Regions from separate parts of the Homo sapiens genome. Here all the other regions are linked to region 3. Evidence: fine-mapped expression QTL. A gene starts in region 3. Each other region holds a variant in brackets. All regions are shown on one strand. Distances are between the middles of the regions. Region 1 has its middle 7.4 kb from the start of TTC34. Region 2 overlaps TNFRSF14 (TNF receptor superfamily member 14). Region 3 holds the start of PRXL2B (peroxiredoxin like 2B). Region 4 has its middle 30 kb from the start of PLCH2.

Region 1 (2,734 bases), 220 kb before region 3:
GGAGTGCGGCATCCCCAGGAGGACTGTTCCCCAGTCCGGGCGATGGGGACGGCTAGCTGGCAGGAGGGAGTTCAGCTGAGCTCGGGGAACCGACAACCCTCAGTCGTGTGCACAGCAGGGGCTGGACACGTGGTCCTCGCCTGGAGGGTGCTGATGAAGTTACGGTAGCAGCGTTCAGTCCAGGAGCACGTGTACCCCCCCCCCCCCCCGCAGCCAGTCTCAGGCCTGGGACTGCATGGGCACGGCTAGGGGAGGGCGGGGGCTGCAGGCTGCCGGACCGAGGGGCACATGGAGCAGGGGCCAGGGCTCAGGAGGGCTCAGGGGGTCCTGGGAGGGCCAAATGTCTAAGCAGAGTCCAGGGAACCAGGAAGAAGGTTCTAGAAAAGGAAACTGACCAGGCAGAGGCTGGTGCCAGGAAGGAGGCAGTACGTCCCGTAATGCCGTGCTGTGGCCTGCTGGGCCCACTGTGACCAAGGAGCAGTGGGAGGTGAGGGTGGTGGAACCCAGGCCATAGGTTCAGCTGGGGCCACGGCCTCGCCAGGGAGTCCACGCGCTTCTCAGAGCGAGTTCTCCACTTGCTGCTCTGGACTCCCAGGAGGCTCTCGCTCAGGCAGATCCAGGCCGGATCCAAGGAATCGGACTCGCCTGCCATGGGGCCGGGCAGATACATCACTCGAGGCATCCCAGGGTGAGGCCCTAGGCCCAAGAGGGCGAGAACCACCCCACCCTACCTGCTGGCGGAGCCTTGGGCCAGGCCCACACATGACCGTGCTCAGCAGGCCCACACCTCCTTCCCATGTGGCACTTCCCAGGCCAAGGCCACAGGTCCCTTGAGGCGCAGGGCAGGTGGCTTTGCCCCATGTCCCCTCCCTTCTCTGGGTTTGTGTCCTCACCCTTGATAAGGCCACCTCCCCCTGTGCCAGGAGTGGCCTGTGCCAGTTGCTGGTGCTTGCCCACCCCCAGAGCCATCGGGCATGTTTCTGCTTCCCCATAGGAGACCTGAGGGCAGGGATGGCGGCCGTCTCAGCCGAGGCTGCACTGCCACTCCCCGGGTTGCCCCAGGATGGGAAGGCACGAGCAGCCGGCCACAGGCACCTGAGTCCAGGCTAAGCGGGCCAGGGCCAGCCCGGGAGACCCGAGCAGGACATGGTCAGCGGCCGAGCTGGGGGCTGTTTGCTGCTGCTGGTTCTAGTGCAGGGAGGGCGGGCACAGCCCCGTGTCCCCCAACTCTGCTGCGAGGCATGTGTCCCACGCCCGGGGATGCTGCCAGGTCCTTTCCCAGGAGGACCAGCCCCCCTCAATAAGTGGGTGCAGGGAACTAAGGGAAGAGCTGCAGCTCCCATGATGACGCGGACACGGCCTCTGCCACCAATCTCGCCTTTCCTGTGTGGGTGGC[G/A]ACACGCGGCGCCGGCTGCCACCTGCACAGAGCCATGGAGCCAGGCCCACGGCAGCCCCACCCACCCCAACCACACCTGCGAGGCCGGCAGCCCCAGCTCCTCCACAGCCCCAGACCTTCCACCGTGCGTCCCCACCGAGCTCCTCCTGTCTCCGTGGCCCAGTGAGGCCAGGGCACCATGAGGCTGCCTGGCAGGGTCCTCACCGCCCCCCTTCCCACCAGCACCAGGGCCCTGTGGCCCTCAGGCCAGTGAGTGACCCAGCTCCAAAATCCCACCCTAAGGGTCTGCTTTCCGAGACCACCTTGACCTGGGCTCCCCAGAAAGCACAGCCTAATGGGGGTGGGGGGGGCCTTGGGGCCGTTATCCTAACAGGAAGAACAGTCCCCCGAGCAGTGGTACTGATGGGACAGGGAAGCCATAGGAGGTGGCCCCGAGGAAGACAAGTCCCCAGGTGTCCCCCGCACCTGGCCCGGGGGACCCCATGCAGCAACCTGCGCCCGGGGCCTCTCTTGTGCAGCAGAAAAGGAGAGGCGCTCACACTCCCCACTCCTCCAGGCCCCCGGGTGTTGACTGCCCTGCAGGCTCTGGGCATGGCCCTGTGGCTGCGTCCTCAGGAACCCGGGCAGGAGGCAAGAGTCAGCCCTGCTGTGTTGGGTGGTGCCTGTCCAAAATCACTCAGAGCCCACATCAAACAAAGAGAAGGCCAGCAAGGCCCAGAGGGTCTGAAATGGAGCGTGGTGGGTGTGTGAGGCGGCAGGTAGCCGGCCAGGTATCTGGTTTGAGGATGCCAACATCGGACGGTGCGGGCGCAGGGCTGGCCTGTGTGTCTGCATGCTGTCCACGGCTGCTTTTGTGCTGCCACGGTTGAGTGGAATGTAAACTTTGCGATTGGAACCCTTTCCAAAAAACATTTTCAGCCCCCACTCTGGAGCGATTCATGGCCAGACGTGCCCCCCTCCACAGTGCTGGGAAGCCTGCTGCACGTCGGGCTGATCTAGGCACTGGGGAGCGGGGGATCAACGGGACATGTCCTGCCCCCGCAAGCCGGCACTCTTGCCAGGGAGACAGACAGGAACACGCCGACACTAGGCAAGAGCCTGAGCAAAAATACCATGGGAAAGGAGGACGGGATGGAGGCTGAATGGCGCAGTCAGGGTGGACGCCAGCGTGCACAGGGCTCTTTGTGATGAAAAGGCCCTGGAGCAGGACCTGCCCGGCGTGTCCAGGGGCAGCAGCGAGGCTGCGGCGTCAGGGCCCGGGACTCACCAGCTGCTGGGACTGCAGGCCTGGGGCAGGTTCCCATCTCTCTGTGCCTGGGCTTCCTGCTTGCTGAAACA
Region 2 (2,500 bases), 26 kb after region 3:
TGAATGAATGAATGAATGGCCTTACTCTCCTCAATGAGGACAAAGCCTTGTCCCCAGCAGGGCGGCTGTTGACCCTCAGCCCAGAGCTTCTCCCAGCTGAGCAGGGCCTGTCCTGCTCCCCACATCCCACAGGGGGCAGGCAGGAGCACAGGGTCATAGAGTGCGTGGGCAGGGGTGGCTGAGGGCTCCACGGTCAGGGGTCCCACCTTCCCTTCCCCCAGGGAGGCCAGCTGACACCTGGGCTCTGGCCACAGCAGAAAGCCCACCTGCCCCAGCCTGCAGTGGCTGCCCTGGGAGGAGCCGCGGATCCTGGAAAAGCTCTGGGGCCACCTCCCAGGCTTGGGGTGACAGAGCTCCAAGAGGTGACGGCTGGGGACATGAGCCCTGATGGGGCCGCCGTGTGCTCACCCCTTGGCTTTCTTCTTTTCACACATATGATTAGGCCAACTGTGGAGCAAACAATGACGATGACGAGGCTCCCTGAGAGAAACCACCATACCCAGTGGGAGCTGCTGGTCCCAGCTCCGGCCTTCGTCACCAGCCAGCTGCACCTGCGGGAGTGGGGCCGAGGACGTGGGAGAGGCAGGTGCAGCGCCCAGTGTTCACTCAGCCTCAGGGAGCCTCCCTGGCTCCCAGGGCCCCAGGCAGTGAAGACAGGTCCCAGGGAGGCTGGGCTGGTGGCAGCTCCAGGATGAGACCTCAGAGGTCTGTCTGACTTTTCCAAGCTCGGCTATGGGGAGGTGGAGAGAAGGAAGGAGGAGAAGAGAAACAAGGAGAGACTGGGCAAAGGAGACAGGACGGCAGAGGGAGAGGGGAGAGAAGCGGGAGGCAGCCAGCAGTGCAGAGACCCCAGAGCACGGGAGACCAGTGGCAGACAAGGACAGAAGGTAGAGGGAGAGCCAGTGTCGGGACAAAAATGGTTAGAGCTGGAGATGGACAGGACTGAGCTGGGGCCAGAGGACGAGGAGGGCAGAGCAGGATGGAAGGCCCCACCGCCCCCTCCCTGGGGCAGCCATCCCTG[C/A]TCCATCCCAGGCTCCGCTGGGGGACCCCAGCTCCTCCCAAGAAGCTCTGAAGTCTCAGGTCAGTTAGGGGCCCAGGGTCAGCATTTGAAGGTGTCCTCCCGAAGGTGGACAAAGAGCAGAGTGTTCACTTTCCCCAACCCCTGAAGCCCAGGGGCCCTCCCATGGCCCTGACATTCAGGGACACCCACAGCCCCAGGGGACAGGGGATCTGGAGGCAGCCTCCCTCTGGGCCTGCTTCTGGGAAGGCCCATCCTGAGCCTCCAGGAAGCTCAGATCTGATGAGGCTTTGTCTGGGCCCATGGAAGGGGTTATCTGGGGCACACAGGCTTCAGCCCTGCAGCTCTCCTGGACGCAGGCATGTGACCAGGGTGCCGCTCAGGGTGGGACCTTCAAGCCTTTCTGCTGGAGAAGACGGTCATCTCCCAGGGAAGCAACGTGGAGCCCCCTCCCCAGGGCACAGAGCTGGGCCTCCCCCGGGTTCACTTACTTGGTCTGGTGCTGACATTCCTCCAGGGTCCCATTGGGAGAGAAGGTCCCCGGGGGGCAGTTCTGACACAGGGTGTCCTGACTCTCGGTGCCTGAGAAGAGAGGGACGGACAGAGGGGGCTGAGGGCACCAGGCCAGGAGGGGGCTGGCGGCTAGGGACTGCTTGTCTGTGAGCTTCTAGACCTGGGTGCTCTACGGGTGATGGGAGGACCAGCGGGGAGGGGCAGGCTCCCTGTCCAGAGTCTTGGAGGTGGGGCCTGGGGTGGTGGCTCTGGCTGTCCCGGCCTTGAGTAGCTGGGATCTCATGAGTCCGGGAGTCCCTCTGTGTCCACATCCTGCAGTGCTGCGGGGGCTGCCCGGCCAGATGCAGGCCAGGGCTGGACACTTACTCCTCCTAGACTTAGCTTGAACAGTGGCATTAACCATGGTCACTCCCATAAACCCAGGCTCCAGACCAGGGGCCCGAGAGCGAGGCCTGGGGACTGGGAAGTCCCAGAACCCCGAGGTGGAGCAACCTGGGGTGGCCCTTCCTTGCCCCTTCCCCTGCCTCCATCACCTGTTCCCCACTGGGCTGCTTCCAGGACAGGGCTGAAGTGGGTGGGCCTGGGGCTGGCCAAGGTTCTGTCTCACCAGGGCCCCTGGGCAGGCCATGCCGTCGAGGAAACCTGGGGCTCCAGACAGCGGGGCACTGGGGACCAGGGTGGAAATGGGAGGGGTGTCCGCCACCCACCGCTTACCTCCCTTCTGCACCCTCTGGCCCGGGCTGGAGGTGGCGTAAGCGCGGCACGCGGCGCAGTGGTCCCCGTCCTGGACGATGCAGAAGTGGCCTGGGCTGCAGCCACACACGGCGTTCTCTGTCCTGGAGCAGTTCCGGCTCGCGCGCAGGCCCATGGCTGGAGTCCAAGAGGAGGGGCTGAGAGGGGTACGTGGAGGCCGGGACACCATCCACGGGCCAGGACAGCATCCACAGGCCAAGGACTGCTGCCAGGGCG
Region 3 (2,734 bases):
GGAGCATGGATGGGGCCCCAGGCTGGGTGTGCCCAGGGATCTGGCTCAGCTGGCAACTGCCAAGCAAAGGAAGCAGCCTGTGGCACAGACACCAGAAAGCTAGGATGGCCCCTGATGGGCCACGAGGCTCCACCCCACGAGGTGGTCTGGACACCGAGAGTAAGCCCCGGACGAGGTGGCTCATTACAGTCACCCAGCACCCAAGAGAAGGCCTGGCAGAAGGGCTGGTCAACAGTGCCACCAGAGCCGCCTTGCCCAGGAAGGCCCGAGTGGACAGCACCACAGAGGGCAGCAGGGAGAGGAGGTGGCAGGGAGCGGTGGGAACCCCTGGGCCCCCCACCCCACGCTACCCAAGGGTTCCCGCCCCCACTCACCGCTTGAAGCCTAGCTCCTTGTAAAGCTGCTTGCTCTCATCCAGGTAGAGCTCTGGAAAGCGGAAGCCACATGTGTGTGCCCCAGGCGCAGAACCAGCCCCCAACCCACTCACCACAAAGAATCGCCCTCCTCCTTCCGACCCTCTGTTCCTCTGCCCACCCTCCGTGCTCAGCCCACCCCCGCAGGGCAGGGAGGGGTAAAACGGGGCTGAGTGTCCCCCCTCCCCTCAGAAGAGGGGCTGAGTCCCAGAGGCAACAGGTGGAGCCGGCGGGGCAGAGCTCGTCCAGACTCTGCTGCTGGGCCCAGGTCTGTGCAGGGCACCACCCAGCCACCAGCTGCGGGGCGGGGAGGCAGGGAGAGATGAGGGACGCTGACCCGTGGGCATATCAAGGCCGCTCCAGCAGACAGAAGGGCCGGGGTTGGGCAGGAAAGGGCCCCGAACGCCCTGAGCTTAGGGAAGGGTATGTGCGCCGCCGCGGCGGGGAACAGGACGCACCTCCCGCGAAGTAGTCGCCGTCCAGGAACTCCTGCAGACCCAGGGCCTCGGGCCCTACGCCCACCAGGCGCACGCCGTGTTGGTCCAGGAGCCCAGCAAGGCTGCTGAGGTCCTGGGCGATCCAGCGGCACACCACGCACCCGAAGCGCCGCAGCCCGGCCACCACGCACGCGTGCTCCCGCCACAGGCTCCGCAGCTCCACGGCCTGCCGGGCGGCTGGGTCATGGGCGCGCCCCGTTGCCCCCAGCCCCGCCCAGGCCCCGCGGCCCCCACCACCCCATCGCTGCCAGGACGCCCGGGCAAGGAGCCAGGGACGCGCCCACCGCCCTGCGTCCACCCGGCCTCACCTCCCCGGTCACCGCATGCTTCAGGATGCACGCGCCCACGCGAGCAAGGTCCACCGTGCTCATGGCGGCCGCTGCCAGCCCTGGTTCCCGGCTCCCCGACTCCCTGTTCCCCGCTCCCGGCTCCTCGCTCCTGGATCCCCGCTCCCGGCTCATAGATCCAGCCCCAAGCCCCGCCCCGAGATGCCCCGGTCCCGCCTTTCTTGCTGCCGCCGAGGCCCCGCCCCTTCGGGCTCGTCTCCGCCCCGGGCCCGCCCCCAAGATGGCCGCAGCGCGCCCCGGCCACGCCCCCGACCGCACCCCGAGCCCTGCTCCGCCCCCTCGGATTCGCCCCTAGTCCCGCCTTGTTTCCCCTCCTACTCCAGGCCAAGCCTCGAGATCGCGGCGCCAAATCCTGGGTCCGCCTGCTTCGGTCCCTCCCGCCTCCTCAATCCGGGCCTTGCGGGACAGTTGCTGTCCCGCGTCCTGGTCCCGCCCCTAGCCCCGCCTCTCCGTTGGGCCGCCGACTTGGACCCCGTCGGCCATTGGCGCAGCAGGCGGAGCTGGGCGGTGCGGCCCTCGGTGCGCGGTGCGCCTGTGCGGAATGCGGCGGGAGGCGGGCAGCCGGCTCGGGGTCGTCCCGGGGGGCGCCGGGGAGCGGCTGGGTACGGTGGGCCCAGGGGTGGTCCAGGGAGCGGCGGGGGTCTCCCTGCGGCCTCGCGCGAGACTGGGCTGGACTCAGGGTTGAGGGGAGAGGGTGAGCGCAGGGGTCGCGGGCATAGGGGACCGCGGGCCGGGGTCTCCCGCGGGGCGGGGGTCCCAGCAGTGGGGGGCGGGGGGGTGCGAGGGCTTAGCCTTTCCACGTGGCCTGGTTTTCGCTTGAAAATCCCCGCAAATGCGGCAGCATCTCAATTATACATGGACGCGATGTCTTTAATCATGAAATACTGTTCATGTCGTGCCGGTTGCATATCAGCTTTTAACCCGCCAAACCTTGGGGCGAAATAGACCCCGGGGAGATAAGCACAGCTCCCAGAAGTGCACTGCGGGTCAGGTGCCTGGCAGATGCGTCCTGTTCCTCCCCCACTGCAGCCCTGTGATAGCTTTTGTCACCGAGTTGGGGTGAGGGCCGGGTCACAGCTTCACCCGGCCTGGGCTCCCACCTGAGCGGGCCCGGCCTGGCAGAGTCTGTGCTGCTGGCACGGGTCCTCACTCCCCAGGCCCCAGGACAGCTCCAGGGGCCTGGGCGGGCTGGAGAAGGAAGGGGGAGCCCCCACACTGTATTCCAAATAAAGAGAGGCCCCGGGGGGGTGCTGCTGCTTCGCCTGTGCCCTCGCCCTGGGGTGGTGAAGGTCCAGACTGCGAAACGGAAGTCGTCACTATGTCAGAAAGGGCAAAAAGCAAAACAAGGAAGGGGAAGCACTAGGAGGGAGGAGCTGTGGCAGCTCCAGAGCCCAGGAGTGCAGCCCCCAGAGACCAGGGCTACCCCTCTACCGTCTCGGGCTGTGCAGGAGGGGCCCTCTACCCTCTGGAGTTGTGC
Region 4 (2,734 bases), 140 kb after region 3:
CTGAAGGCAGAGTGGTCCTGGAGGATGCGGGTGAGGTGAGCAAATGGGCCTCCCCCCACAGACTTGGGGCCCCACCCTGCAGCCACCCTAGCCCTGGAAGCCCCTCAGGTTGCTCGTTTCTGCCATCAAGCCTGGCTCCTCCTGGAGCCTCACGCACAGAGTCTGATCTGCACTGGGAGCTCAGAAGGCAGGCATGAGGAGCCTGCTCCCATCTGCGGGGGTGGAGACCCCGGAATCGACACCCAAAGGCTGCTGGGAGCACATGAGGGGGTGGGAGAGGAAGGCAGGAAGAGGAGCCCTGAGGGCGGCTCTGAGGCTGGGGTGGGTACCCTCTGCCACCTCCACCTCCACCAGGCCACCGTGCTGCCTGAAGCTGGCCCCGGAAAGGTGCTTGTGCATGGGCACAGAGGTGTGCACACACACACGGGGCTGCAGGGGCAGGAGGAGGAAGGAGCCCCAGCCCAGACTCAGCCCAGCCCTGGGGAGCATGAGGCAGTGAAGGGATGATCACATTCCTGCCGGCTCTGACCCCTCTGCAGGCCCCGACCCCTCTGCCAGCCCCAACCCCTCTGCCAGCCCAACCCCTCTGCATGGGCCCAGGTTGGCCAGCTCTCAGCTGGGCTGGGCAGCCGAGGCAGCCTCCTTTGTCCCTTTGTGCTGGGCGAGTGGAAAGGACAAAAGCTGTTCTCCCGGCTGGCTAGCTGCTGCCGCCGGAGACATCTCCAGGAGCCCTTCCTCCCTCTGCCTCCAATGTGCGCCTGTTACACAACAGACCTAAGAATAATCCGGAGGGCGGTCGGAGTCGGAGCTGCCCCGCCTCCTGGGACCCCTGCAGCTGGGGGGAGGGAGGGGCCTGAGGCACACAGCTCCTGCTTCTGCCTGGGGCCCCAGTCTGTCAAGGGCCACCCCACCCCCAGCCCCGGGAGACCTGGCTACAGGGTCTTAACTCCAGCCTCAACCCCCAAATCGCAGGCAGGGCTGAGCCACAAGTGAATAGGGGGGTGAGTGGCAATGGAACCCCAGAATCCAGGGCCACTTGTGCCCAGGGGCCATTGGAGACAAGAGTCCCAGTGGGGCCTGTGACAGCCCCAGAGTGGGCAGCAGCGGGGAAGCTGGGCCTTCAGTGGGTACACTGATGTCCAAGCCCCCAATGGCCACCCCTTCCTGGCAGCCAGGGGCAGCACCCTGGCTAGGACTGCAGTGGACAGGGAAGCAGGACGGGGGTGGAAGCCCGGCCAGGCAGCGGGAGGGACCCTCTGGGCTGGTCCTCAGCCCCCCTCCCGTCGGCGTGCCCATCACTGGAGCAGGTGGCAGGCAGCTCTTGGGGCTCTGGCATGGGGCTCGGGCCAGGCTCCCTCCGTTCCCGGACAGACGGCACTGTGGGTGCGACAGCAGCTAATGAAGCGGTCCTATTAGGCGCAGAGTAACAGAAGATACACAAATTGGTCCGAAGCTCTTCATGTGTTGTGGACATTAAAAATTAAAATCCAATTACAACTCGTATTGTCAGACCTGGCTGCTGCGGCTTACGGCAATCCGTGTGTGC[C/T]GTGCAGATTATGTCACCTGAACTCCAGCAGCAGCAGTGAGGGCCTCGGGAACCGGGCTGCCAGGCCCCCACCACCACCTAGGAGGGTCTGTAGGGGGTCTCTCCTGCCCACCAGCTCCTCTGCCTCCCCCCTCTGGGCAGGGTCCCTACCTGGTCACCCACAGGAGGGGCCGCTGCCAACCTGTCCCCACCCTCCCCCGTACCCCCAGCTGTTCCCCACCCACAGCCAGCTCTGCCAGAGGCTGGACATCAGGCCTGACCCCAGCCTCATGCTCAGGGATCTGAGGCCAAGGCCACCAGACCAAGCCCCGAGCCCCGAGTCTTCTACACACTGTCCAGCAGACACTCCCACCAGTTCCCCGACCACTGCCCAGGCCTGTTCCAGCCTCTTCTCTCACTGCCCTGGTTTCCCTGGGGACATGCCAAGCAGGCGCCAGTCTCCCTCCCTGCCTCGTCCAGACGAGGCTGCAGGCTCAGCTCTCTCACCTCCCAGAGGGCAGGGCCATCAGGCGTTCAGCCTCAGGGAAGGGGCCTGTGGGGACCCTCAGCACAGCCACAGGCACCCACTTGCCCAGTGCACACCTGCCTCCCTCATCCTTTCCAGACCCCAGACCCTCCCCTAGGGCAGTGCGGAGAATGTGGCCCTGGCTTAAGTGCAGAGGGAACATAGTGGGGGCCAATTTAGAGACGACTTCTCCCATCAGCCCAGGGTCCTAGGGGAGACCAACAGGCTGGCTTCTGTCCCCACCAACCAAGCAGGAGATAGGACAGTGGCCTCCGCCCTCTGACTTGCCCCTCCCCGGCCTCCCATGGTGCCTGAATCCCCTCTGAGGCTGCACCTCGCTGAAGGAGTCTCTAGGATCAGACACCCAGGCAGGCAGACACCATGGGCTCCCCAAGTCAGGGGTGTTGGGGCACCGTGACCCCGCCTCCCCAGACCAACGTGTCAGGGGACGAAGGGGACACCGATCGGGTCCATTCTCCTGGAGGGAGAAGGCCATGGGGGAAGGGCAGTTCCAGTGGTCTCAGTGGTCACAGTGGGGATCAGTGGCCACCTTGGCTGCCTCCAGTGTCACCAGACAGTGTGGGAGGCGGGGAGCGGAGGGGAGGGGAAGCCTCTTATCTCCTTGGCATCTTCCTCCACCAGCTCCAGCAGAGCCCATCTCCCTAAAGAATACCCTGTAGCTC

Evidence for each region. PIP is the estimated chance that this variant, and not a neighbour inherited with it, causes the effect.
Region 1: its variant is fine-mapped to the expression of PRXL2B in whole blood (TOPMed, PIP above 0.99).
Region 2: its variant is fine-mapped to the expression of PRXL2B in whole blood (INTERVAL, PIP 0.90).
Region 4: its variant is fine-mapped to the expression of PRXL2B in nucleus accumbens (GTEx, PIP 0.95).

Annotation. Positions count from the first base shown.
Region 1 is chr1:2,807,729-2,810,462 of GRCh38, reverse strand. No RefSeq gene overlaps it. Among named protein-coding and RNA genes, the nearest start is that of TTC34, 7.4 kb to the right of the region's middle. The variant G/A (reference allele first, on the strand shown) is at 1,397.
Region 2 is chr1:2,559,724-2,562,223 of GRCh38, reverse strand. It overlaps TNFRSF14 (TNF receptor superfamily member 14), which reads right to left. Exons shown (of 8, transcript NM_003820.4): 4 at 2,246-2,401; 5 at 1,510-1,600; 6 at 409-551. Among named protein-coding and RNA genes, the nearest start is that of TNFRSF14-AS1, 4.0 kb to the right of the region's middle. The variant C/A (reference allele first, on the strand shown) is at 1,022.
Region 3 is chr1:2,585,433-2,588,166 of GRCh38, reverse strand. PRXL2B (peroxiredoxin like 2B) reads right to left here and starts at 1,390. Exons shown (of 7, transcript NM_152371.5): 1 at 1,219-1,390; 2 at 872-1,076; 3 at 375-426. The coding sequence starts at 1,281. RefSeq lists an enhancer at 1-582.
Region 4 is chr1:2,444,586-2,447,319 of GRCh38, reverse strand. It overlaps a transcript of PLCH2 not described here. Among named protein-coding and RNA genes, the nearest start is that of PLCH2, 30 kb to the left of the region's middle. RefSeq lists enhancers at 1-59, 895-1,729. The variant C/T (reference allele first, on the strand shown) is at 1,547.